7 linked regions of the Homo sapiens genome follow. The protein of the gene in region 1 purifies or fractionates together with the protein of each later gene. This does not show direct contact. Each region holds a gene or a part of one and is shown in the gene's direction. Other genes may lie near its edges. The genes, in order: ACP1, TXNDC5, ZBTB43, PPIL3, PITPNA, TALDO1 and PAK2.

Region 1 (3,500 bases):
GTACTCTACTTTTAGATTTTTTCCAACTACTCAACAATGTAAAAATTATTCTTACCGCTGTGGGCTGTACATAAAGGCAGTGGACCATGAGCCGATTTTCAGACCCCTGTTTTAGGTCCAGATCTTGGGAGGCCATGTGAAGACTTGGGCTTACTCTGAATAAACATTGGAGGGTTTTGAGCAGAGGTGGGAAGTGATCAAATTTAAGTTTAAAAAAGAAGAGTTTCAGCTGTTGTTTTGAGATGAAACTGGAGGTGGAGCATGCCTTTACTGGTTGCATTCTGAGGGAATTTGAGCGGTAAATGGCATTTTACTTGGTAGCCATATAGAGGACAGTAAGAGTTGTATGCTTTTGAAATGTAAAAAACTTTGTTCATTCAAAGCATTTGTTTGGACCCTATTGAGATTGAAGTGTAGAAAAGCATCAGAGGTTTTTCATTGGTGAAGCTAATGATGGAAAATAATTGAGCTCCTTACTACAGCACAATTATGAAGGGTGCTTTATGTTTTTGCAATAGAGACTTATTAGTGAAGATGATGCAGGAGCCATGACCCAGCCAGCATGGTTGGTGGAGATAGCACATGCTGGTGGAGTCACTTTACTTCTGGGCTACACCCATACTGGGTGCTGGGTCTCTTACCAGGTATAGCAGACACAGCCCCACCCTCCCAGAGCCTATCTGCCTTTTATGAGTCTCCATCCTTGAATTGAAGATGCTGAAGAAGGGTATAAAATAGTCTGCCTAATTTGGAAAAGACAAACTTGAGACTTTACAGATTGAAACATTTTTTAAAGGCATTTGAAGATGGAATGTTCTGTTTTTAGAACTTGTTTGATAGGCGAAACCTGAAGTACATGCAGTGTTTCACTGATGACCGGGGTGCTCCATTTTTTCATAACAAAATTTGGTGGCATCAACTTTCGAAATCAACAGGGCAAGCTACTGCTAGCCTTTAGGACAGTTAATAATGCAAGTTTTCATATTGTTGTGGGGAAAGTAAGCTGTTATTTTACAGTTAAAGATAATTATTTGTAAACGTGTGGGGCTAGTCTTTATTATATTTTTAGATGCTGAGATACTAGGCATCTGTTGTTCTACAGATCCAAAATAATAATTGTCTTAATTTGGAATACAATGTTTGCTGTTAAAAATATTCCCAGGGTATATGGTGACAAGTAAAAGAGTTACACACCCATGGGAAGCCTTTCAATAATTAAAATAGTGCTGATGACAATACCTGTTTAGAAAACTAAACAAAATTTAGAATGTCGAAAGGAAAAACTTCACAACACAAATTAGCATATAGAGGGTATTCAAGGCTAATTTGTTGTCTTTCCCTTTATGGTTTGTAGGTAAGATTTTTTACTGCTGTGGAAACTACAGTCTCTGTGGGAAAAAAGTACGTAATATGCTTAGGTCTTACAATGTAGAAACTGAAGGCTGTAGTAAGGCAGTGAGTTGGTTTTCTGAACTAGGGAATTAGCTGTGTTTTACAACACTAGAAGATCCTCATTGTATTTGTTTATCATAAACAGAAGACCCTAATAGTGATAAAGAGTAAACTCTTAGTTAGTGCTGCCTATTCTCACAGTTCCTCTTTTTCGTATCTGTTTCCTAAATTCAGCTCCTAATGTCTGGACTCAGTGTGGTGCTTTGGCATTAAGGAGACTGGAAGGCCTCAGAGCAGCCCCAGAAGCAAGGTCGTAGAAACCATCATTTATCTTCCCCAGCGCAGATCATAGAAACTAGAACTCCTCTCCTGCAAAGCAAGCCATAAAACCTAGAAAGATCACTCTCTCCCTTTTGCCTTCTCTTGAAGACAGCATTTCAGAGGGGCCCTGCCTCATTCCTGGGGGAGGAAATGCTGTGGCCCTGCTGGGTTTCCCTCAGTCTGCTACCATTGGATCATTTCCTTTTGTCCAGTGCCATTTCTACACAGCTGTGCATTGGTCATCTAAGCATCAAAACCGTTTCCCTGGGTCTTTGGGTCTTCATTTCTGAAGGCTCTTGTTAACCTGTCTTTTGTTACAGGAGTATCTTCCATGACCTTTATGATGGGTGAGGAAAGCTGCCACACCTTTCCACTCTGACACTGTCTTGTATTTGCTCCTTCATACGAGCCTCTTACAAGGTCTCTCCAATTCAGTCATGTGCTCTTCTAGTGTTTCCTTAGCTGTGCCGGTAATTTTGGTAACTTGTAGGAAGGGTCTGTGTTTTAAACAACTTTCTGTCTTCAGGTTAGGGCACAGTGCTTGGCACATAGAGTTGGCATACAAAATATGTTTGTTGAATAAGTCATATTACCCTTTTCCATAGGACTTTCTATTTCTCCTCATAGTGGCTACGCAAAGTTCAAATGTTGGCCCAGTGTTTTAGGGCTCCTGTATACCAGCCCGTCAGTTTCCAGACACTGGCTCTCTGTACCTGAAGCATCGCAGCCTCACCTGCTTAGTGCCACAATCCCTCTGAGTTAAATGCCTTTCCCTTCCTCTGTCCATTAAGATCCTGATCATCCTTTTAATATCATCTCTAATCTTTCTTTTTTCTGGTAAGAAATTTTCTTATATCTTGTTTTTGCTTTGTAGCATCGTTCTTTTTCTGTGCTGCTGTAGTGTATTGTTTATCAGCATTCATTTTCCCACTTTTATTATAATAAATATAATAAATAAAGTGGAGATAGAGTTCAGCTGAATGGCCAGTGATTCAACCCATTGTGTCTCCCTCCGAAAACCCCAATAAAACCTCAGAGCACTATGGCTCTGAGGAGCTTCCTGGGTTGGCAGTGCTCTTTGAATATTGTCTCATGTTGATGACAGGAGAGTAAGGTGTCCCAGAGGACAGTGGAGCTACCTGTTAGGGAACCTCCCAGAATGTGCCCTATAGGTCACTTGCTTTGGCTGTTTTGTTTGTTTGTTTGTTTTTGTTTTTGTTGCTGTTACTATAATGAAATTGTAATGGTAAGTGTTCTGCTTTCCTGAGTTTGGGGAGTAATTCTAGGGAATTATCAAACCTGAGGGAGCCCTGGGGAACCTGGATTTCTCACTTGCTGGTCTAAAGTAAGGATGGCCCTGATGTCGACATCGTGGTCTGGAGAGTGGTGTCCCTGACCTTGGGCTGCTAATGCCTGGATCTGTATCCCTGGGCTCAGGGCTTTGCATGTGATCGCTCAGTAAATGTTGGTGTTGAATCGCTGTTTATGCTTAAATGCATGTTTGTGTGTTTGTGTATTGTTTTGTGAAACAGTAGTCATCCTTATGTGTGATATACTTGAAAATACATACAGTTGACCCTTCAGCCACAGGGGTTTGAACTTTGAAGGATTTATTCGAGGAATTTTTTTAATCAAGCACAGATGGAAAATACCGTGTTGTCTGAATGAGAAACCCATCTGTATGGAGGGCTGACTTTTCCTATACTTGGGCTCCACATTCTCAGGGGCCAACTATAGGACCTGAGTATGCACGTTTTGGTATACTGGGTAGGGGTGGGAGGGTGTCC
Region 2 (2,886 bases), on another chromosome or scaffold:
ATAAATCATCCCATTCCTGCTCTCAGGAGAGAATCGCAGATCCATTTTTGGAGAAACACATAGACGTCATTCTGTAAAGAACTGTCAAGGGAGAATGGCTTTAAAGCAGACTACCATGTAGCACCTTTCCCTTAAATTCTCCAGCCAGAGCTTCCATCAGCGTTTTTCACATTGACTTAGAACAGGCTGCTTTCCATTTTTATGTTCAATGTAAAACAGGTATCATTGCCTTTGCTATTGTAACTAGGTTCTTTCTGTTGCATAGAGAGGATGTCACAAAGGGTGCTAGGAGAATAGGGTGGCCAGTGAGAAAAGCGGCTGAGGATGAGACTTCAGTGGGTATCCTGGAGACTCCAGGCTTAGAGGTGCAGACTCAAGTGTCAGACACCCAGGGCTGCCTGGTCCACACCACAGCGCCCTGGAGAGTTTTCAACCTGCCTCATCCCCAAAAGACAGTCCCCCTCCCCACCTTCATCCCCTGTACAGTGTCCAGCCACCTCCTCACCACATCTCCCAGGCTTGGGACCCAGGGACTTGCATTGATCTCTCTGCCCTTCAGAGGCTGCCAGCCTCCCTTTGTGTGTAGCCTATGAAATGCAGATTGTGTAGGTATTTCTGTGTGACCTTGGAGCCTACGTAACTGCATTTTTAAAAAATTACTGATTCGTGTATCTGCAATCCCAAAGCATGGCCCTGCTCAACTTTAAGGGATGTACTTGAACTGTGGCTTTTTCCTCCCTTGAAGGGCACTGTGTTGGCACTCACTGAAAATAACTTCGATGACACCATTGCAGAAGGAATAACCTTCATCAAGTTTTATGCTCCATGGTAAGTGGCTGTTTAATTAGAAACTACTTTGTCCATGTGTACTAAGTCACATCATGTTTTTCAGCTCATCTGCCACCCCTCCAGACTCAATGTTGGGCACATGTTACATTTATATGTAGGTCATGTTGTAGGAAATAAGGAACCGTTATCATGCTCCTATATTCAAATATTTTAAACTTCAATGGCCTTAATTATATATGGAGAATGAGGCTACAGTTATATCAACTTTGATTATATATGGAGAATGAGGCTAAAGTTATATCAACTTTGGAGAAAACATAAAAATGGAGGCAAATTATGATGGCCATATTCAGTTTTGTGGTATCTGCACTTTTCCAAATAGATGGCTTTTCTTTTTGGCTAAACAATGAGTGTCATGATGTAGCTTTGCTCCTCGGTTCTTTTAAGTACTCGGATTTCTTTTGTAGAGAAATCCAGTAGAGTCTGTTAGAGCCATTCAGTATGCTACGCAGTTTCCTGAACCTGCATGCCACGTGGTCTTGGAGACCAGAGCAGAAATGGATTGCAGGTAGTGTGAGATCCAGACAACCTTGGTTCTAAGACTTACCGTGAATGACTGTATAGTAAACTTGGATGTCCTTTAATTCCTTTGAACCCCAGTTCCCTCAGCTGAAAAATGGGAGTAACTTTTTGTCTTCACAAATAAAACAATCCATTTGGAAAAGCAGAGTGTTAGGACAACAGTAGATTGTTTATCTAAACATGATAAAGGCGTCACTTTTCTTGTTTGTTACACTCCACATGTTCCTGAGAAACTAACCATAGGGGTAAAAAGTTAATAAGCACAGGACTTGAACGAACCATAGCAATGCCTTTCAAATCATTTGCAACATTTAAAAACCTAAAGCTCCACAGATCAAGTATCAAAAAGGAGGATCCCCTTTGGCTGAAGGGGAGCCATCCATACGGCAGGAGGGGGTCAGAAGAGACAAGGGAACAGAGTCGGGTAGAAGGGAGGGTTTGAACCAAACTTAATCATGGCCTTGATGCTCACCCCACATCGCTGAAGTACCAAGGAGGCCTTAAAATGGTTTTGAAATTGTGAGACCATAAGCAATCAAATCTAAAATGTCTTTGGCATTCAAGTGACCTTTTAGAAATTGTGTGGCATCTGCCCTGTTCCCTGTTCCTCTGCTCCTGTGCTTTCATAAACCAGTTAGCACAGTTCACCATGGCATGGAAATGGTCTCAGAATCTCAACTTGTTTTGAGACTGGCTTGCTTCTGTCACATTATCTGAAAGTCTACCTTGGATCAACTTTTGGGTTCTTCATTTGGGATAGGAGGAGGAAGAGTTAATGTGCACCCAGTGGGAGAATTTGGTATTTTACAAATTTCTAGGCAATTGTTGACTGTCCCATACAGAAGAAACAGAGCTTGTCTTGGCAGCAGAGTGTAGGTGAATGATCTCGACCCAGGATTTCAACGAAGCTGCCATTTTTCTCGTCTTAGGTGTGGTCATTGTAAGACTCTGGCTCCTACTTGGGAGGAACTCTCTAAAAAGGAATTCCCTGGTCTGGCGGGGGTCAAGATCGCCGAAGTAGACTGCACTGCTGAACGGAATATCTGCAGCAAGTATTCGGTGGGTACTTGGATGGATGCTTATGGGAGCTCTCAGTATGGGGGCAGATCCCAAGGGAACTGTGCCTCAACCACGATAACTCACTCTGCTCTCATCTTCTCAACAATGTGGTTTTTATGTCCCTTTGAGTTGTTTGTTTGGAGAAGCAAAAGAGATCCTCTCTCAAAGGGAAGGCATTCTTCTTCGCCCGCTTTGTAGTTAGTATCCATGTTTCAGTGCAGGTTTTCAGGCCTTGCTGTCTGAGTAACAAGGCCGTGAAGTAACAGACCCCACGCCATAGACTGTGGGGCTTCCCACACCGCGACTCTTGATGATTGACCAGTGGTCTGTAGCCTTTGCCATAAATACCCGAGTCGCTCATTTTTCACACATAAGCCAGCATTATAAAATGCAGTGGCTGAATCTAAGAATCATTTCAACATAACCTCCTTTCTGAAAGGGCCATGCCAGCAAGTC
Region 3 (3,500 bases), on another chromosome or scaffold:
ATGTTGTTAATTTCTTGAAATGAGTACTGTTTCTGCCTTCTGCTTTCTTGATTTCAGCTTCTTATCCTGAATTCTAATGCACGTGAGGGTACAGTTAAAAACATTTCCTTGGCTTTATTGAAATTCAATGGAAGGATGATCGATAAATGGGGGGTTAGTTTCTAGAACGTTACCTTCTCTTTTGAATCTCAGAGAGTTTGCTGTAATAGAATGTTTGTCCTAGAAGTTTTTAAGTAAAACATTCAGCCGTGGCTTAAAATTGAAGGGAATCATGAATCAAACTTCATAAAGCAGGTGGCTTGTTTTTTTAAAAAACATCTTAAAATAGTTTTTACTAAGTGATTTGGCCAAAGTGTTCTAATTAGGAAAAAAATGGAAGAATACTGATTGACAATGGTCAGGAGACCAATAGCACTGTTCCAAAGGATATATTAATTCTGCAAAATTACATAGTCATTGACCATGTTTTCTAGTTTTAATGAATATGCCACAGTAATGGATGAGAGGTATATGGGAGTTATGCACTATCTTTTCAGTTTTTTTGAAAATTTAAAATTATTACAAAATAAGTTTGTTTTTTTAAAAAATACAAAAGCAGGAGCTATGAAGTTGCAGAATGGAATTTAATATAACCAAAAATGCCAGTCTTGATTACTTTTCTTTCTGCCGCTAATGTACATCTCTAGTGTTTATTAGCAAATACACGTGTACATAGCATCTCTTTTACATTTTCACTGTTACTCTTCCTTCCAGAAGTCAATGTGATTTTAATTTGAAGCAAAACTGAAATGGGTTCTTCTTCCTCATTCTATTCATGTTGCTTTTTGATGGCCATGGCATAAGGAACTCTATCCCAGGAATACAGCTTTGCATTAGGTAAGCTATCAACTTGATCACGATACCATTTTTAAAGTTACTTACTGTAATCATTTCTCTTTTAGCAAAAATAATAATGTATTTTGTTAAGATTTTTAATTCCTCTAGACCAGAAGATTCTTTCTTCTCTTCTGAAGAGATGTTACACCTTCTAAGGCCCATCAATGCCATACTTTGCACTGATAGAACATTTAATGTCAGATAAATTTTTCTGCCAAGTGAATTTTTTTTCTTAACTTAGAAAAATGTTAGATTTGGAGTTATACTGCTGTTTGAATGCTGACATGCCATTTCTGAGACGTGTAACCACTGGCAGGTCTTTTAATTTGAGCTTCAGTTTACTCATATTTCAAAAGGATGCAATGATACGGGAGTGTTGCACAACGCAGGTTTACATAGTGTGCTTTGTGAACTCTAAAGCATTTCACTAATGTAAAGAGTAGGCATAGGGTATTGGTGTTTTTGTACATTTGTGCCAGGCTTTAAATTTACTGAAGCAACATTTACTATGTTTAAATATGCTTTCTATAGTAAGCATGCAAGTTACCATATGCTCTGATTAAAGAAACCTCTGAAGGACTTCACAATAAGTAGCTGGTGGGTCTGCTTCCCTATTATATTGCTGTCATCTGTGTTTTTAGGATGTTTAATAGGTGTTTAAATCACGTATAAAATTTGACTTGGAGTTCCTCAGCCGAATAATAAATAGTGGCTGTTATTAAACTCATCAAAGTTGGAAGGAATCTTGAAGGTCATCTAGTTCAGGATTTCTTCAGTATGTTGCCCTTCATCTGCGTTAAAAAAAGCCAAATAGCTTTTAAGAAGCATAGTGGAACAGGCTGGCATCGGTGTGTTTGTTTTAGAACTGTTGCTATTGGATTAAAAAAATAAAATACATGTGCAAAGTGGCATAAAACTGCTGGTATCTTTTTTTTTTTGAGACAGAGTCTCGCTTTGTCGCCCAGGCTAGAGTGCAGTGGCAGGATCTCAGCTCACTGCAAGCTCCACCTCCCAGGCTCAAGCAGTTCTCTGCCTCAGCCTTCAGAGTAGCTGGGATTACAGGTGCCGGCCACCACACCCGGCTAATTTTTTTGTATTTTTAGTAGAGATGGGGTTTCACCATCTTGGCCAGACTGGTCTTGAACTCCTGACCTTGTGATCCACGGGCCTCAGCCTCCCAAAGTGCTGGGATTACAGACGTGAGCCACCGCGCCCGGCCCACTAACTGCTGGTATCTTATTAAGGTTTTTGTTTGTTTGTTCATTTGTTTGTTTATTTGTTTGTTTGTTTGTTTTTGAGATGGAGTCTCGCTCTTGTTGCCCAGGCTGGAGTGCAGTGGCAGAATCTCCGCTCACTGCAACCTCTGCCTCCCAGGTTCAAGAGATTTTCCTTCCTCAGCCTCCTGAGTAGCTGGGATTACAGGCATCTGTCAGCATGCCCAGCTAATTTTGTATTTTTAGTAGAGACAGGGTTTCGCCTTCTTGGCCAGGCCAGTCTCAAACTCCTGACCACAGGTGATCCACCGTCTCGTGCTCCCAAAGTGCTGGGATTACAGGCATGAGCCACTGTGCCCAGCCGTCTTTTTTTTTTTTTTTTTTTTTTTTGAGATGGGGTCTCGCTCTGTCACACAGGCTGGAGCGCGTGGCGAGATCTTGGCTCACTGCGACCTCTGCCTCCCGGGTTCAAGTGATTCTCCTGCCTCAGCCTCCCAGGTAGCTGGGACTACAGGCATGGGCCACCATGCACAGCTAATTTTTTTTTGTACTTTTAGTAGAGAAGGGGTTTCACCATGTTGGCCAGGATGGTCTCCATCTTTTGACCTGGTGATCCGCCCGCCTCGGCCTCCCAAAGTACTGGGATTACAGGAGTGAGCCACCATGCCTGGCTTGGGCCATCTTAAGTCTAAGGATGGTCAGCGTGCGAAAGTTTGTGAATGCATTGTATATAATAAAATTATATAGATTATTTGTGAAAATGATATTCACGTTTACTTTCCATACTCTGAAACTATAGTGATATTCACAGCCAGGCACGATGGCTCATGCCTGTAATCCCAGCACTTTGGGAGGCCAAGGTGGGCAGATCACATGAGGGTCAGGAGTTCGAGACCAACCTGGCCAACATGGTGAAACCCCATCTCTACTAAAAACACAAAAATTAGCTGGGCGTGGTGTCACGCACCTGTGGTCTCAGCTACTCAGGAGGCTGAGGCAGGAGAATCGCTTGAACCTGGGAGGCGGAGGTTACAGTGAGCTGAAGTGGCACCACTGCCCTCCAGCCTGGGCGACAGAGACTCCATCTCAAAAAAAAAAAAAAAAAGAAGAAAAAATTATATTCACCTTTTCTTTCCACCTCTTAAGCTATAGTGGGCCTGAACAAGTACTTTGGATTTAAATCTCAATTTTACTGCTTACCAGTTATATGACCTTAAGTTGCTTAGCTTTTTTGTCTATCTCCAATTCTGTACAATGGAAGTAAAAAATACCTATTGAGTGGGTTGCTGTGAAGATTAAGTGAGACAGAGCATATAAAGTGCTTTGCATAGACTTTGTACAATGTCTGTATTAAGCAGTTTATATATTTGTATATGTATGTCATAAATAGTAGTTGCTGTTATTTCCTAT
Region 4 (3,500 bases), about 200 Mb from region 1:
GACTCTTCATATATTCTGGCCCAGGAATTCCATTCCCAAATGTTTACTCAAGAGAAACTTGTAAGTTTGCACCAAGAGACATGTACAGGAGTGTTCTGATGTACTGTTTGTAATAGCAAAAGTCTAGAAACAACCCAAATGTCCACTGATTGTAGATGAATCACTATGTAGATTGTGGATAAATTGTAGTATATTCAGTAGTGAAATATCACATAGTAGTAAAAAAATAGTAATAAACTATGGCTATATGTACATGTATAACCTTAGAAATGTAACAATGTTATTTGTAGAAAGCATTTCCCAGAAGACTAAAATGTTACGATGTAATTATATTCAGAAGGAAAAGGAAAGAATGTGTTGTTTAGGCATGTGTAAATGTGTTAGGGCTGGGCACAGTGGCTCACTCTTATAATCCCAGCACTTTAGGGGGCCGAGGTGAGAGGAACAAGTACTTGAGGCCAGGAGTTTGAGATCAGCCTGAGCAACATATTGAGCCCTCATCTCTACTAAAAGTTAAAAAATTAGCCAGGTATGGAGGTGTACATCTGTAGTCTCAGCTACTCAGGAGGCCAAGGTGGAAGGATTGCTCAAGCCTAGGAGGTCAAGGCTACAGTGAGCTATGATTGCACCACTGCACTCTAACCTGGGTGACAGAGTGAGACCCTGTCTCTAAAAAAAAAAAAAAATGAAAAAATGAAAAAAAAAAGGTATTAGAATAGTGGTTACCTCTTGTAGAGGCTGAGGTAATAAATGGAGAGGAGCACATGGATATATGTAATTAATTGGTAACTTTTATTTTTTCTTGAGCTCCCATTATTCAATGAATTGGTAAATTTTAACTCTGAAAGCTGGGAAATATGTTAATGGGTGCTTATTTTATTAACTTACATTTTTATTAACTATATTTTTGTGTATGTATTAAATATTGTGTATGTATTAAATATTACATGTGTATTTAATATTACATTTGATTGGTGGACACCTTTTAGGGAGACAAGCATTAATATTTTGATATAGGTGCTTCTCTATGACTTATTAGCGTCACCCAATGAATAGCTAAAGCTAGAGTAATTGGTGGAGTTGTAGTGTATTACAGGCACCTCCCTGTAACATAGTTCACAGTTACATCTTCATTCTTATCAGTAAGGTCCTTTTAATTTCTATACACTGTCTCTTGTAAACAAATACTATCATGATAGTAGAGCTAGGTGAGACCTTTCTTAGATCGTTCAGTCCTGGGGTTATAAACTGACTGCCCATGAGTGGAACACCCACAGATGCATTATCTGTGGCCCTTAGTTAAAAAATATATATTTAATGTCATTAATCAAGAGATAGCCTATTCATTTTGCCAGACTTCATCTCTCTCTAATGTTTACATTCTGCCCAATTGTCAGTTTATCTGCTTGACCCTTGTGAGCATCTGAGTTATAAATAGACCCTTGAACTAGTCCAGCCTCCCTTGTTTTACAGATAAAGAAACTAGCAAGAGTCCATTGTATGTGAGAAGAGATTGTGGGCATTTTGGTTTTGTTGCCTGCCTGATCATTTCATTCCAGCACACTATTCCTTAATATAAATGTAAGGATTATTTCTATTATTTGTTGGTATTGCAAAAAGTGTCCATGGCTGTATTTCTTCAAAGTGAAAATGAAATTAATTGAGAAATATTATTTGATATATTAACCTTTTACATACAAGTTTTCAAAGGTACAGAAAAGGCAGAAACTGAACATTTGGATTATCCCTAATAGAGAGAAGTTGGTTAAATGTTTTCTTGCTCCCTTAAATATTGTGAAGGTAAAGATTGAATGTCTTGGCTGGGTGTGCTGATTCACACCTGTAATCCCAACACTTTGGAAGCTAAGGCAGGAGGATCACTTGAGCCTAGGAGTTAGAGACCAGCCTGAGCAACATAGTGAGACCCCAATCTCAAAATATTTTTAAAAAAGAAAACAAAGGTGTGCCTGTCTTGTTTCAATACTATATTTGGGATGGTTATATAAAAACACAGTTAATACTTTGATGTGTCTTTTTCAGCACAATGTTAGAGGTGTTGTATCTATGGCTAATAATGGCCCGAACACCAATGGATCTCAGTTCTTCATCACCTATGGCAAACAGCCACATTTGGACATGAAATACACCGTATTTGGAAAGTGAGTATTCTGGTTATGGTTTTCTTTTAGCATTTCAATGCAAGTGGTGCATATGCTTAGCTGTGACAGTAGCATAACTAATATTGAAAAGAGTGAGGCCGAGCGCAGTGCCTCACACCTGTAATCCCAGCACTTTGGGAGGCCAAGGTGGGCAGATTGTCTGAGGTCAGGAGTTCGAGACCAGCCTGGCCAATGTGGCAGAACCCCTGTCTCTACTAAAAATATTTTAAAAAATTAGTTGGATGTGGTGGCACACACCTGTAGTCCCAGCTACTCAGGAGGCTGAAGCAGGAGAATTGCTTGAACCTGGGAGGCGGAAGTTACAGTGAGCCGTGATCATGCCATTGCACTCCAGCCTGGGCGACAGAGTGAGACTCTGCCTCAAAAAAAAAAAAAAAAAATGAAAAGAAAAGAAAGAAAAGAAGAGTGGTGTGAGAGCTAAACGTACCTGGAGTTTAAGTCTACCACTTAGCAACCCTGTGACCTTGGGAAAGTTATAATCTCCCTGAGCTTTATTTTCCTTATTTTGTAAAAGAGGCCAGTAATTTTTCAATATTGTTATGCAAATTAACATAGTATATCTATTTTCTTTTTCTTTTTCTTTTTTTGAGACGAAAGGCTCTGTCGCCAGGCTGGAGTATGGTGCAGTAGCACAGTCATGGCTCATTGCAGCCTCAACCTCCTGGTCTCAAGTGATCTTCTCACCTCAGCCTCTTGAGTAACTGGAACCACAAATGTGTACCATCATGCGCAGCTACTTTAAAAAAAAAAAAAACAAAAAAAACACTTTTTTTTTAGAGACATGGTCTCACTATGTTGCCCAGGCTGGTCCATTTTCATTAATGATAGCATTTCACAGCAACTAACAGATCTGAAAAATAGTGGCTTAAACAAGATGGACTGGCATGGTGGTTCCATTTTGTTACCAGTGTTCTAGGCGCCTCTGTCATAATATTGGCAGCACAGCTCTTATCAAAACTTCTGTGTATCAGGGAGGAAAGGGGAGGAAAGACAAAAGGTGCTTGCCAGCTGATTCACCTTTTTTAATTAACAGAACTTTCCCAGGCCTGTAATCCCAGTGCTTTGGGAGGCTGAGACAGGAGGATCACTTGAGGCCAGGAGTTCAAGACCAGCCTGTGGAACATAGCAGAACCCATCTCTATAAAAAAAATTTAAAAATTAGCCAAGTGTGGTGACACACACCTGTAATCCCAACTACTCAGGAGGCTGAGGTGGGAGAATCACTTGAGCCCAGGAGTTCCAGGCTGCATGAGCTGAGATCACACTTCTGTACTCCAGCCTGGGCAACAATGATACCCTATCTCTAAAAAAAAAAAGATA
Region 5 (3,500 bases), on another chromosome or scaffold:
ATACCCAACTTGGCACAAAAGGAAATTCTGATGTGTCTTGCTTGTTTTATTTTTAAAAGTGAGTATTAGGAGATTTCTTGTCTTGAGTTGGGGATGCCACCAGAAAATTAGTGGCCCAAATTTGTGTGCCCTGTTTGGCCTCTGAAAATTATTACTGGACTAAGTAGGTATTGTAGCTAGAGTATTTTGCCCTGCTAAAATGATGCTTAGCCTGAAAAATCGGAGCACCACTTCTCAAATTTATTTTTCCAACTCAGTAATTAAAAAAACATTTACTTCCTGCCTACTGGGTTGTGGAATATTGTCAGGATCTCTGGGTTCCAGGTGAGGGATGCAGAATGCAGGGAAAGACAGGTCCCCTGCCCTCCAGAAGTCGGTGGCGCCTTTTCAGAGTAACACACACTGGAGCAGACCCCTGGAAAAGGACAGTCCACTGGTGGACCATGACCTTGGTCAAAAGAGGGACCAGGTCTGGCTTGCTCACTGTTTTGCACCCAAGAAGTATTTGCTCAGGGAATGAGGGGGTTAGATTCCTCCTCATTCATTACCATTCTTACTAGGCAGAGGCCTCATTGGGATTAAAAGACAGGAATGTAACTCTCTGCCCACTGATAGGGAATGTGTGTTTGCTCTTTGTATCCCAGGGGTGTGATACCTCTTTCCTGTGGTCACTCTGCACTTAAGATATTTTGGGGCCTGGCACGGTGGCTCACGCCTGTAGTTCCAACACTTTGGGAGGCCAAGGTGACCGATCATCTGAGGTCCTGAGTTCGAGACCATCCTGCCCAACATGGTGAAACCCCATCTCTACTAAAAATACAAAAATTAGCCAGGCCTGGTGGTACGTGCCTGTAATCCCAGCTACTTGGGAGGCTGAGGCAAGAGAATCGCTTGAACCCGGGAGGCAGAGGTTGCAGTGAGCAGAGATCACACCATCGCACTCCAGCCTGGGCGACACAGCGAGACTCCATCTCACACACACACACACACAAAGTTATTTTGATTTGTGCATTTCCGAAAAGATATAAAAACCATCTTGTGCTTCCTTGCCCAATATCCCAACCCCCACCTTCAAAACGTTGGTGGATTTTTCAAAAAGCTTTTTATGGAAGTTTAACATATACAGCAAAGTGAATATAAGTATGCAGCTTGATGAATTTTCTCAAACTGGATACTAGCAAAAAGTATGATTCTTTGAGTATTTTGTCAACTCTGGTTGATCTGTGTGAGTGGAGGGAAGCAGTGATGGTGAATATTTATTTTTTAAAGCACACATAAATATAATCTCCTCAGAGGCTGGGCACATTGGCTCACGCCTGTAATCCCAGCACTTTGGGAGACCGAGGCAGGCATATCACTTGAGGTCAGGAGTTTGAGACCAGCTTGGCCAACATGGTGAAACCCCGTCTCTACTAAAAATACAAAATTAGGGCCAGGTGCGGTGGCTCACACCTGTAATCCCGGCACTTTGGGACGCCAAGGTGGGCAGATCACGAGGTCAAGAGATCGAGACCATCCTGGCCAACATGGTGAAACCCTGTCTCTACTAAAAATACAACAGATTAGCCAGGCGTGGTGGCAGGTGCCTGTAATCCCAGCTACTTAGGAGACTGAGGCAGGAGAATCGCTTGAACCCAGGAGGCGGAGGTTGCAGTGAGCCGAGATCATGCCTTTGCACCAGCCTGGGCAAAAAGAGTGAAACTGTGTCAAAAAAAAAAAATACAAAATTAGCTGGGCGTGGTGGCGCATGCCTATAATTCCAGCTACTTGGGAGGCTGAGGCAGGAGGATCACTGGAACTCAGGAGGCGGAGGTTCCATTGAGCTGAGATTGTGCCACTGCACTTCATCCTGGGCGACAGAGCGAAACTCTATCTGAAAAAAAAAAAAAAAAAAAAAATCGGCCGGACATAGTGACTCATGCCTGTAATCCCAGCACTTTGGGAGGCTGAGGCATGTGGATCACCTGAGGTCAGGAGCTTGAGACCAGCCTGGCCAACATGGTGAAACCCCGTCTCTACAAAAATACAAAAATTACCCTGGCGTGGTCGCAGGCGCCTGTAATGCCAGCTACTCAGGAGGCTGAGGCAGGAGAATCGCTTGAACCCAGGAGGTGGAAGTTGCAGTGAGCTGAGATCGTGCCACTGCACTCCAGCCTGGCCAACAGAGTGAGATGCTGTCTCAAAAAAATAAAATAAAAAAATAAGGCAGGGCGCGGTGGCTCACGCCTGTAATCCCAGCACTGTGGGAGGCCAAGGTGGGCGGATCACGAGGTCAGGAGATCGAGACCATCCTGGCTAACACGGTGAAACCCCGTCTCTACTAAAAATACAAAAAAAATTAGCCGGGCATGGTGGCGGGCACCTGTCGTCCCAGTTGCTGGGGAGGCTGAGGCAGGAGAATGGCGTGAACTTGGGAGATGGAGCTTGCAGTGAGCCGAGATCGCGCTACTGCACTCCAGCCTGGCCAACAGAGCGAGACTCCCTCTCAAAAAAAAAAGAAAAAAAAAAAAAACTTCTCAGCTTTGGGAAATACTTTATGAGAGAGAGAAATTTATTATCTTTGTTATTTTTGTTAAGTAGATGCTATAAGTTTGTATCTCCTGAGCCCACATTAGTCAATGTAGAGGGACAGCTGAAAATTAAACTTTTGTTGTGGTTAATTAACACAGGAAATTGACTGCATTATAAATCTGTGAAGTGAGACTCACCAGTAGTGGATAGGTTCCATACACTGAACATTTCCAGTAATGATTTTGTTAAAACAAGCCAGAGGGAGATTGCACTGGAAGATTTAAGGAATGACAGCCGGGTATTCTGAGCGCTGGCTGTATTTTAGAGTCACTTGCAGAGATTTAAAAAAACAAAAAACAAATCTGTGCTGCCGTCACCTGCAGATATTCTCAGTCACTGGGTTTTAGTTGGAGTGACTCAAAAATCTGTGTTTTAAAAAGGTCTTCCCTGGTGATCTGGATGCTCACCCCAGGTTGAAAGTCTCTGTCTTCAACACGGTAAATATGTGCCTGCTCAGACAGTCTGGTGATACTTTCACACTGGCAAAATGGAAAACAAACCCTATCGGAGAAAATCACATAGAACTCTCCTCTGAGGCTAATGTAAACAGTTCTACATCTTGTTTATAACATTTTCCCATATTTGCTTTGTGCCATCAGCATCAAGATCTGGTATGGAGTGAATGCTAATGAAAGATCTGTTCTCCCCATCTCTCACTCCCTCTCCCACTCCCCTCCAACCCCAATTCCACAATTTCTCTCAGGATTACAAGGCAGAGGAAGACCCAGCAAAATTTAAATCTATCAAAACAGGCCGAGGACCCTTGGGCCCCAATTGGAAGGTACCATTCACACCTTCACTGCCAGGGGGCTGGGCAGCATGTGGGTGGGCCGCTCCCTGTGGAGGAGGGGCATGGCTGGGGTGAGCTGGGGACGGCCTGAGGTCTGCCCGTTGTTACTTGCGTACCCATGGGTATGTTTCTAATGCAG
Region 6 (3,500 bases), on another chromosome or scaffold:
TGTATTTGTTTTTAGAGGCAGGGTTTCACCATGTTGCCCTAGCTGGTTTCGAACTCCTGAGCTTGAGCAGTCTGCCCACCTTGGCCTGCCAGGGTGCTGTGATTACAGGCGTGAGCCACTGCACCCAGTCTGGCCCAAGAATTCTAACCTCTGAGCGTCTAGCTGAAGATCTTCCTGTGTGTAGTGGGCTAACAAGGCTGCTCAGATTTTGGAACAGAATCATGGACTTCACTGGGTGTCTGTCCAATAACTTTGAAGAGATAGAAAATATAATATTTTGCAAGTGCCAAAAGATAGAGGGATGCAGTTTGGGATGATGAAAAGAGCTCTGGAGATGGATGGTGATGGTTGTACAGAACTGTGAATGTGCTGAATACATTTTAAAATGGTGGGCTGGGGGCAGTGGTGCACGCCTGTAACCCCAGTGCTTTGGTAGGCCAAGATGGGAGGATCCCTTCAGCCTAAGAGTTCGAGAACAGTCTAGGCAATAGGGCAAAACTCTGTCTCTACAAAAAAATATAAAAATTAGCTGGGCATGGGCCAGGCGTGGTGGCTCACGCCTGTAATCCCAGCACTTTGAGAGGCCAAGACAGGCGGATCACGAGGTCAGGAGATCGAGACCATCCTGGCTAACACGGTGAAACCCCGTCTCCACCAAAAATACAAAAAAATTAGCCGGGCACAGTGGCGGGCGCCTGTAGTCCCAGCTACTCAGGAGGTTGAGGCAGGAGAATGGCGTGAACCGCGGGGGGCAGAGCTGGCAGAGCCGAGATTGTGCCACTGCACTCCAGCCTGGGCGACAGAGTGACACTCCATCTCAACAAAACAAAAAAATTAGCCAGGTATAGAGGTGTGCAGCTGTAGTCCCAGCTACTTGGGAGGCTGAGGCAGGAGGATCACTTGAGCCCGGGAGGTCAAGGCTGTAATGAGCCATAATCACACTACTGTGCTTCCAGCCTTAGCTGGAGACCCTGTCTTGGGGGAAAAAAAAAAGGATAAGATGGGAAATTTTATGTTATATGTATTATTTGGCCACAATAAAAAAATGTTTTAAGAGAAAAAAAAAGATGGAGGGAAGGAAATTTGGCAAAGAAATAACAGAATTTATTTTGTAGAGTCTTGTGCACTTGAACCTCAGAAGCTTCTTTTTTTTTTTCTTGAGATGGAGTCTCGCTCTGTCGCTCAGGCTGGAGTGCAGTGGCACGATCTCTGCTCACTGCAAGCTCCACCTCCCAGGTTCACGTCATTCTCCTGCCTCAGCCTCCCTAGTAACTAGGACTACAGGCACCCGCCACCATGCCCAGCTAATTTTTTAATATTTTTAGTGGAGACGGGGTTTCACCGTGTTAGCCAGGATGGTCTTGATCTCCTGACCTCATGATCCGCCCACCTCGGCCTCCCAAAGTGCTGGGATTACAGGCGTGAGCCACCGCACCTGGCGAACCTCAGAAGCTTCTAACCTGCTTTTTTTCCCTTTGAATTTCAGGTCACAAGAGGACCAGATTAAAAATGCTATTGATAAACTTTTTGTGTTGTTTGGAGCAGAAATACTAAAGAAGATTCCGGGCCGAGTATCCACAGAAGTAGACGCAAGGTAAGGATGCTTGCTCCTGCACTGGATGGGCTGGTCAGGTGTCCACAGTTGCACACGTGGATGCCAACATGAGGTCAAGGGGCTGCTCCACCCATGGTCTTCATCCCAAGGGCCCAAGAGGAGGTTTATTTTGAGCTCTCCCACAGTTGGTAGTGATGACCAAGAGCTCCTTGTTTAGCAACTGATCTCTAGTGTTTTTTATTTTTATTTTTATTTATTTTTGAGATGGAGTCTCGCACTGTCACCCAGGCTGGAGTACAGTGGCGCAATCTCAGCTCACTGCAACCTCTGTCTCCCGGCTTGAAGCGTTTCTCTGCCTCAGCCTCCCAAGTAGCTGAGATTACAGGCACCTGCCACCATGCCCAGCTAATTTGTTGTATTTTTAATAGAGATGGGGTTTGACCATTTTGGCCAGGCTGGTCTTGAACTCCTGACGTCATGATCCACCTGCCTCGGCCTCCCAAAGTGCTGGGATCACAGGCATGAGCCACTGTGCCCGGCTGCTAGTGTTTTTTGTTTTGATTTGTTTTGTTTGTTTTTTGAGACAGAGTCTCGCTCTGTTGCCAGTGTAGAGTGCAGTGGTGTGATCTCAGCTCACTGCAACCTTCACCTCCCGGGTTCAAGCGATTCTCCTGCCTCAGCCTCCCAAGTAGCTGGGACTACAGACACCCGCCACCATACCCAGCTAATTTTTTTGTATTTTTAGTAGCGACAGGGTTTCACCATGTTGGCCAGGATGGTCTCGATCCCTTGACCTTGTGATCTTCCCGCCTCAGCCTCCCAAAGTGTTGGGATTACAGGCGTGAGCCACGGCACCTGGCCCAGTGTTTTTTAATACAAATTATAGCCTATGGATCCCACTGAGGACCTCTGTTTGTGAGACTGGGTGTGAGTTGCTGTCAGAGCCATTCTGCAAACCTCCAGTGAGGGGAAGGTTGAGGGCAGTGGTTGGTGCTCACGGTGGTGCTGCTCAAAACTGACAGGCAGACACCCGGCCTCCAGCTTGCTCTGCGTGGTGGGCAACCTGCGTGATCTGAGGGGATGGGTTCTTCTTGCTCCTACAGGCTCTCCTTTGATAAAGATGCGATGGTGGCCAGAGCCAGGCGGCTCATCGAGCTCTACAAGGAAGCTGGGATCAGCAAGGACCGAATTCTTATAAAGCTGTCATCAACCTGGGAAGGAATTCAGGCTGGAAAGTAAGTGGTCCCCCACAAGGAAGGAGCTCTCAGAGATTTTTCCTCTGTTGGAGCAGGGTCTACATGGCATCAGGCAAGTTTGACTCTCTCAGCCCTGGGGAATGCCAGACTGGGGAGCACAGCCCACAGCTTGGACTTGACCAGCTCATGTCAGCCTAGATCTGCCCTCTGCTCCAGAGCCAGCTCCCTCACTTGCTGGTGATCAGAAATGAGGGATTTCCCAGGAAGTACCATCCACCCACTCAGCAGAGAAGAAAAGCCACTAGTTAGCACCTGCAGATTCAGATTCTGTCCTTCCTCTGTCCTGATCAACACAAGCCTATGTTTACATGATTTTTAAAAAGTAAACTATTGTTATATAAAATATATGCTGGCTGGGCAAGATGGCTCATGCCTGTAATCCCAGCAATTTGGGAGGCTGAGATGGGAGGATCACTTGAGCCCAGGAGTTCCAGACCAGCCTGGGCAACAAAGTGAAACCTTGTCTCTACAAAAATATAAAGAAATTTTAGGCTGGGCACGGTGGCTCCCAGCACTTTGGGAGGCCGAGGCGTGGGGATCACGAGGTCAGGAGATCGAGACCATCCTGGCTAACACGGTGAAACCCCGACTCCACTAAAAAATATAAAAAATTAGCCGGGCATGGTGGCACACACCTGTAGTCCCATTTAGGAGGCTGAGGCAGGAGAATTGCTTGAACCCAGGAGGCG
Region 7 (3,146 bases), on another chromosome or scaffold:
CTGGCATTTTGTTCCCACCATCCCCTTCCCCCATTAACTTCCCCCCTGCTTGCCATCCTGCAGTAGTATAAATCATGAATAAAAAATAATTTTGCTGTTGTAGTATACATTGGAGAAACTGGCAGGTTTTATTTCCATTATTTTATTTCCACTATATCTATGATAAGATGCAATTATAAGGAGAGAAGTGACTGTTTTTTATTGATAAGGCAAGATTTTCAGAAAAATGAGTAAAATAATTAATGAAACATATTTAGAGCACTTAATGGTCTCTGTTTTCAATATAATTCTTGATTTCATTTTTCTCTGGAATATATTGGCCTTCTACAGCTATTACTGAATTATAGAAACTGGTTTATTTCTGGCAGAAAGCTGCAGTGCCACCTGAGTTCCAAATTTTACCATTCTTTGTAAACAGTTGGATGGATTATGATAAAGAAGATGCTACCAATGAAATAGAAAACCAACGAGATGAGAAGACTGTGATCCTCATGTACTCAGAGGCACTTCCCTCCTAAGTCAAAGACCATCCTCACTGACTATGTGCCAACGCCTCGTTTCAGGCTTGTGACTCAACAAAGGGCTTTTCCATTGATAGAAGCAGTTTGGGATTTGTAGTTGCGACTTCTTCGATAGTTACCTGCACGTCCATTGCTGGCAACTGACTTGTCATTAAAACCTGGCTCTTTGGTTAAGGGAGCTACGCTGTGGTTTATTCTTAAGTTACGTGGATAAACTAACCTCTAACAGAAATATACTTTGGTTAATTTTGAAATGTGTCATTTTTAAACAATCTTAAAAGTAATACAGAATTGTGATTTATTAATTTTAAAACATTCAGAACTTGTTGAAAGAAAAATTATATCTGAATCAAGATTCATGTTTTTTATTTTTATTTTTTTTGATACAGAGTCTCACTCTGTCACTCAGGCTGGAGTGCAGTGACATGATCTCAGCTCACTGCAACCTCCGCTTCCTGGGTTCAAGCAATTCTCATGCCTCAGCCTCCTGAGTAGCTGAGACCACAGGCACCCGCCACCACACCCAGCTATTTTTTTGTATTTTTAGTAGAGACAGAGTCTCACCACATTGCCCAGGCTGGTCTCCAACTCCTGAGCTCAGGCAGTCTGCCCACCTTGGCCTCCCAAAGTGCTGCAGTTACAGGCGTGAGCCACTGCACCTGGCCTCATGTTTTTTAAATAATTGCCTTTTATATTTACCCTTTTTGTCATCACTTTAGAATGAAAATTCCCATTTAAATCTGAAAGTTACCTTAATAGTCCTCTTGTGTTATTAGGACAGTATTATTATAGTACTTATTTATTTTATTTTAGATTTAAAGTTATCTTCTCTTTTTCTTTTTTCTTCTGCTGCTTTTAGGGACAATTAAAACTGGGAAACTATGAAACATGGAACATTTTATCCTACCTGAAAGTAAACGAGTAATTGTGAAGCATAAGACACTGAGGCTAATACAACTCTGTCTTCATGTGTTGACTGCCTGGCACATAGTATTCATTCTCTTCCCTTTAACATAGAAGTGTCCAGCTGCGTACAGTCTAGTAACCAGCAACTGTAAACGAACCTGTGCCTCTAACAAGCGATTCTAAACCACCTATGAGTATTTCTTTTAGGGCTCACTTAAATACATGTTTGTATATACTGTATTCTAGCCAGAATAATTTTAGATCTGATCAGGTAGTAGCTAAAATTAGAAAAAAACAAAATAGATGCTTAAAGAATTTGCATCCATTTTTGAGTCTAAATCTTTTAAAATATACTGAGATCCACATCTAGTGAAATGTCAGTGTCAAAATATTATAGATTATAGCTAAAATCCAGATTAATACTCATTTGGGGTTTTTTATAGTGGAACTTCATAGTAATACAAAAAGCAGATTGTCTTCCTGTCTCCGCTGCTCCCACAGTAGGTATTGAAACTGGTAAAATCAGTTTTTTGATAGTGTGTGTATATAAGAAAAAATAGATACACACATTCTTTTTTCTCAGTCAACACATTGATTGAACACTCTGGCAAAGATGCTGTGGTGGATGAGGTTGGAGTTCGAAAGAAGAAGCAAGCGCTGGCCTGGCCTTGAAAGAACCGAAGTCTTTCCCATTCACTTCTCTAGAAAGCTGCCAAGACAGAGGCAGAAAGAAATGGATGATAGTTCTGTCAAGCACACTTCTGTTCTCTTAGAACTTAGAAGTGTTTCTAAGAGAACAGAAGTAATAAGAGAAACAGTTACGTGTGGAATTCAACATCTTTGGTTGGAACGCATTGGCTTTTTTTTTCTTGTTTTGATAGAAATGGAATTAAGCAAAAGTAGTTTTTGTCTTTTCTGTTGTCTTCAAATTTTATGCCTTTTATTTTTAATTTAATCCCGTTCAATTATTTAATTGTTATACATTGACATTAACTGCTGTATTTTGACTTTGTTCAATAATTTTGTTCTTTCAGGGCTAGAAATAAACTTTTTAAAAAAAGTGTGCATTTTTCCCTTTCCTAAACTTTTATTCTTTCTTTTGATCAGCGTAAAAGAATATTTTAATGTCTTTTGATAGCATAAAAGAATATTTAAATGTCTTAATAGGTTTTCAAAGAACATTTAGTATTTTTAGTGATAAATGTTTTAAACCTTTTAATGGTGTTGTGCCATCATTTTGAATTTATTACAAAGCTCCAAAGTAGGAAGGTTTCTAGAAATGTGTGGGCAGTAAACATGAAGTTTTCCTTTTTTTTTTTTTTTTTTTTTTTTTTGAGACAAGTCTCACTCTTTCTTCCAGGCTGGAGTGCAGTGGCGCCATCTCAGCTCACTGCAACCTCTGCCTCCCAGGTTCAAGTGATTCTCCTGCTTCGGCCTCCTGAGTAGTTAGGGGAAGTTTTCCCTTTCTAAATCAAGTTCAGAATAATTTTCTTTATCAATGTTTCTCTATCAGACCCAGGGAAACAGTTCTGATTTGAACACACACCTTGCTGGAGTAATAAAAACCTGATCAGAATTTCTGTGTTAAGTGAACCAAGAAACCTTTTAGAGTGCAATACGTCGTAAGGCATCACTTCATTATGTGAATTAATTTGGAATCTTAGGTACCCTAACATAGGGAACAGCCACAATAATGGTTTACTATCAAAAAGCATAAAA

The links.
Region 2: the proteins of ACP1 (region 1) and TXNDC5 purify together in Homo sapiens (affinity purification with mass spectrometry, with the first as the bait; one large-scale study listed by BioGRID). This does not show direct contact.
Region 3: the proteins of ACP1 (region 1) and ZBTB43 purify together in Homo sapiens (affinity purification with mass spectrometry, with the first as the bait; one large-scale study listed by BioGRID). This does not show direct contact.
Region 4: the proteins of ACP1 (region 1) and PPIL3 fractionate together in Homo sapiens (co-fractionation; one large-scale study listed by BioGRID). This does not show direct contact.
Region 5: the proteins of ACP1 (region 1) and PITPNA fractionate together in Homo sapiens (co-fractionation; one large-scale study listed by BioGRID). This does not show direct contact.
Region 6: the proteins of ACP1 (region 1) and TALDO1 fractionate together in Homo sapiens (co-fractionation; one large-scale study listed by BioGRID). This does not show direct contact.
Region 7: the proteins of ACP1 (region 1) and PAK2 purify together in Homo sapiens (co-immunoprecipitation; one large-scale study listed by IntAct). This does not show direct contact.

Annotation. Positions count from the first base shown.
Region 1 is NC_000002.12:267,947-271,446, forward strand, and holds part of ACP1 (low molecular weight phosphotyrosine protein phosphatase), read left to right. Parts: intron 1-3,500. UniProt on the Homo sapiens protein: Acts on tyrosine phosphorylated proteins, low-MW aryl phosphates and natural and synthetic acyl phosphates with differences in substrate specificity between isoform 1 and isoform 2.
Region 2 is NC_000006.12:7,883,903-7,886,788, reverse strand, and holds part of TXNDC5 (thioredoxin domain-containing protein 5 isoform 1 precursor), read left to right. Parts: intron 1-745; coding exon 746-828; intron 829-2,300; coding exon 2,301-2,430; intron 2,431-2,886. UniProt on the Homo sapiens protein: Protein disulfide isomerase of the endoplasmic reticulum lumen involved in the formation of disulfide bonds in proteins. Can reduce insulin disulfide bonds.
Region 3 is NC_000009.12:126,808,040-126,811,539, forward strand, and holds part of ZBTB43 (zinc finger and BTB domain-containing protein 43), read left to right. Parts: intron 1-57; exon of another isoform or gene 58-153; intron 154-753; 5' UTR 754-876; intron 877-3,500. UniProt on the Homo sapiens protein: May be involved in transcriptional regulation.
Region 4 is NC_000002.12:200,875,578-200,879,077, reverse strand, and holds part of PPIL3 (peptidyl-prolyl cis-trans isomerase-like 3), read left to right. Parts: intron 1-2,040; coding exon 2,041-2,159; intron 2,160-3,500. UniProt on the Homo sapiens protein: PPIases accelerate the folding of proteins. It catalyzes the cis-trans isomerization of proline imidic peptide bonds in oligopeptides. May be involved in pre-mRNA splicing.
Region 5 is NC_000017.11:1,535,293-1,538,792, reverse strand, and holds part of PITPNA (phosphatidylinositol transfer protein alpha isoform), read left to right. Parts: intron 1-3,274; coding exon 3,275-3,352; intron 3,353-3,500. UniProt on the Homo sapiens protein: Catalyzes the transfer of phosphatidylinositol (PI) and phosphatidylcholine (PC) between membranes. Shows a preference for PI and PC containing shorter saturated or monosaturated acyl chains at the sn-1 and sn-2 positions.
Region 6 is NC_000011.10:757,464-760,963, forward strand, and holds part of TALDO1 (transaldolase), read left to right. Parts: intron 1-1,486; coding exon 1,487-1,594; intron 1,595-2,658; coding exon 2,659-2,790; intron 2,791-3,500. UniProt on the Homo sapiens protein: Catalyzes the rate-limiting step of the non-oxidative phase in the pentose phosphate pathway. Catalyzes the reversible conversion of sedheptulose-7-phosphate and D-glyceraldehyde 3-phosphate into erythrose-4-phosphate and beta-D-fructose 6-phosphate.
Region 7 is NC_000003.12:196,830,002-196,833,147, forward strand, and holds the end of PAK2 (serine/threonine-protein kinase PAK 2), read left to right. Parts: 3' UTR 1-2,646; downstream 2,647-3,146. UniProt on the Homo sapiens protein: Serine/threonine protein kinase that plays a role in a variety of different signaling pathways including cytoskeleton regulation, cell motility, cell cycle progression, apoptosis or proliferation.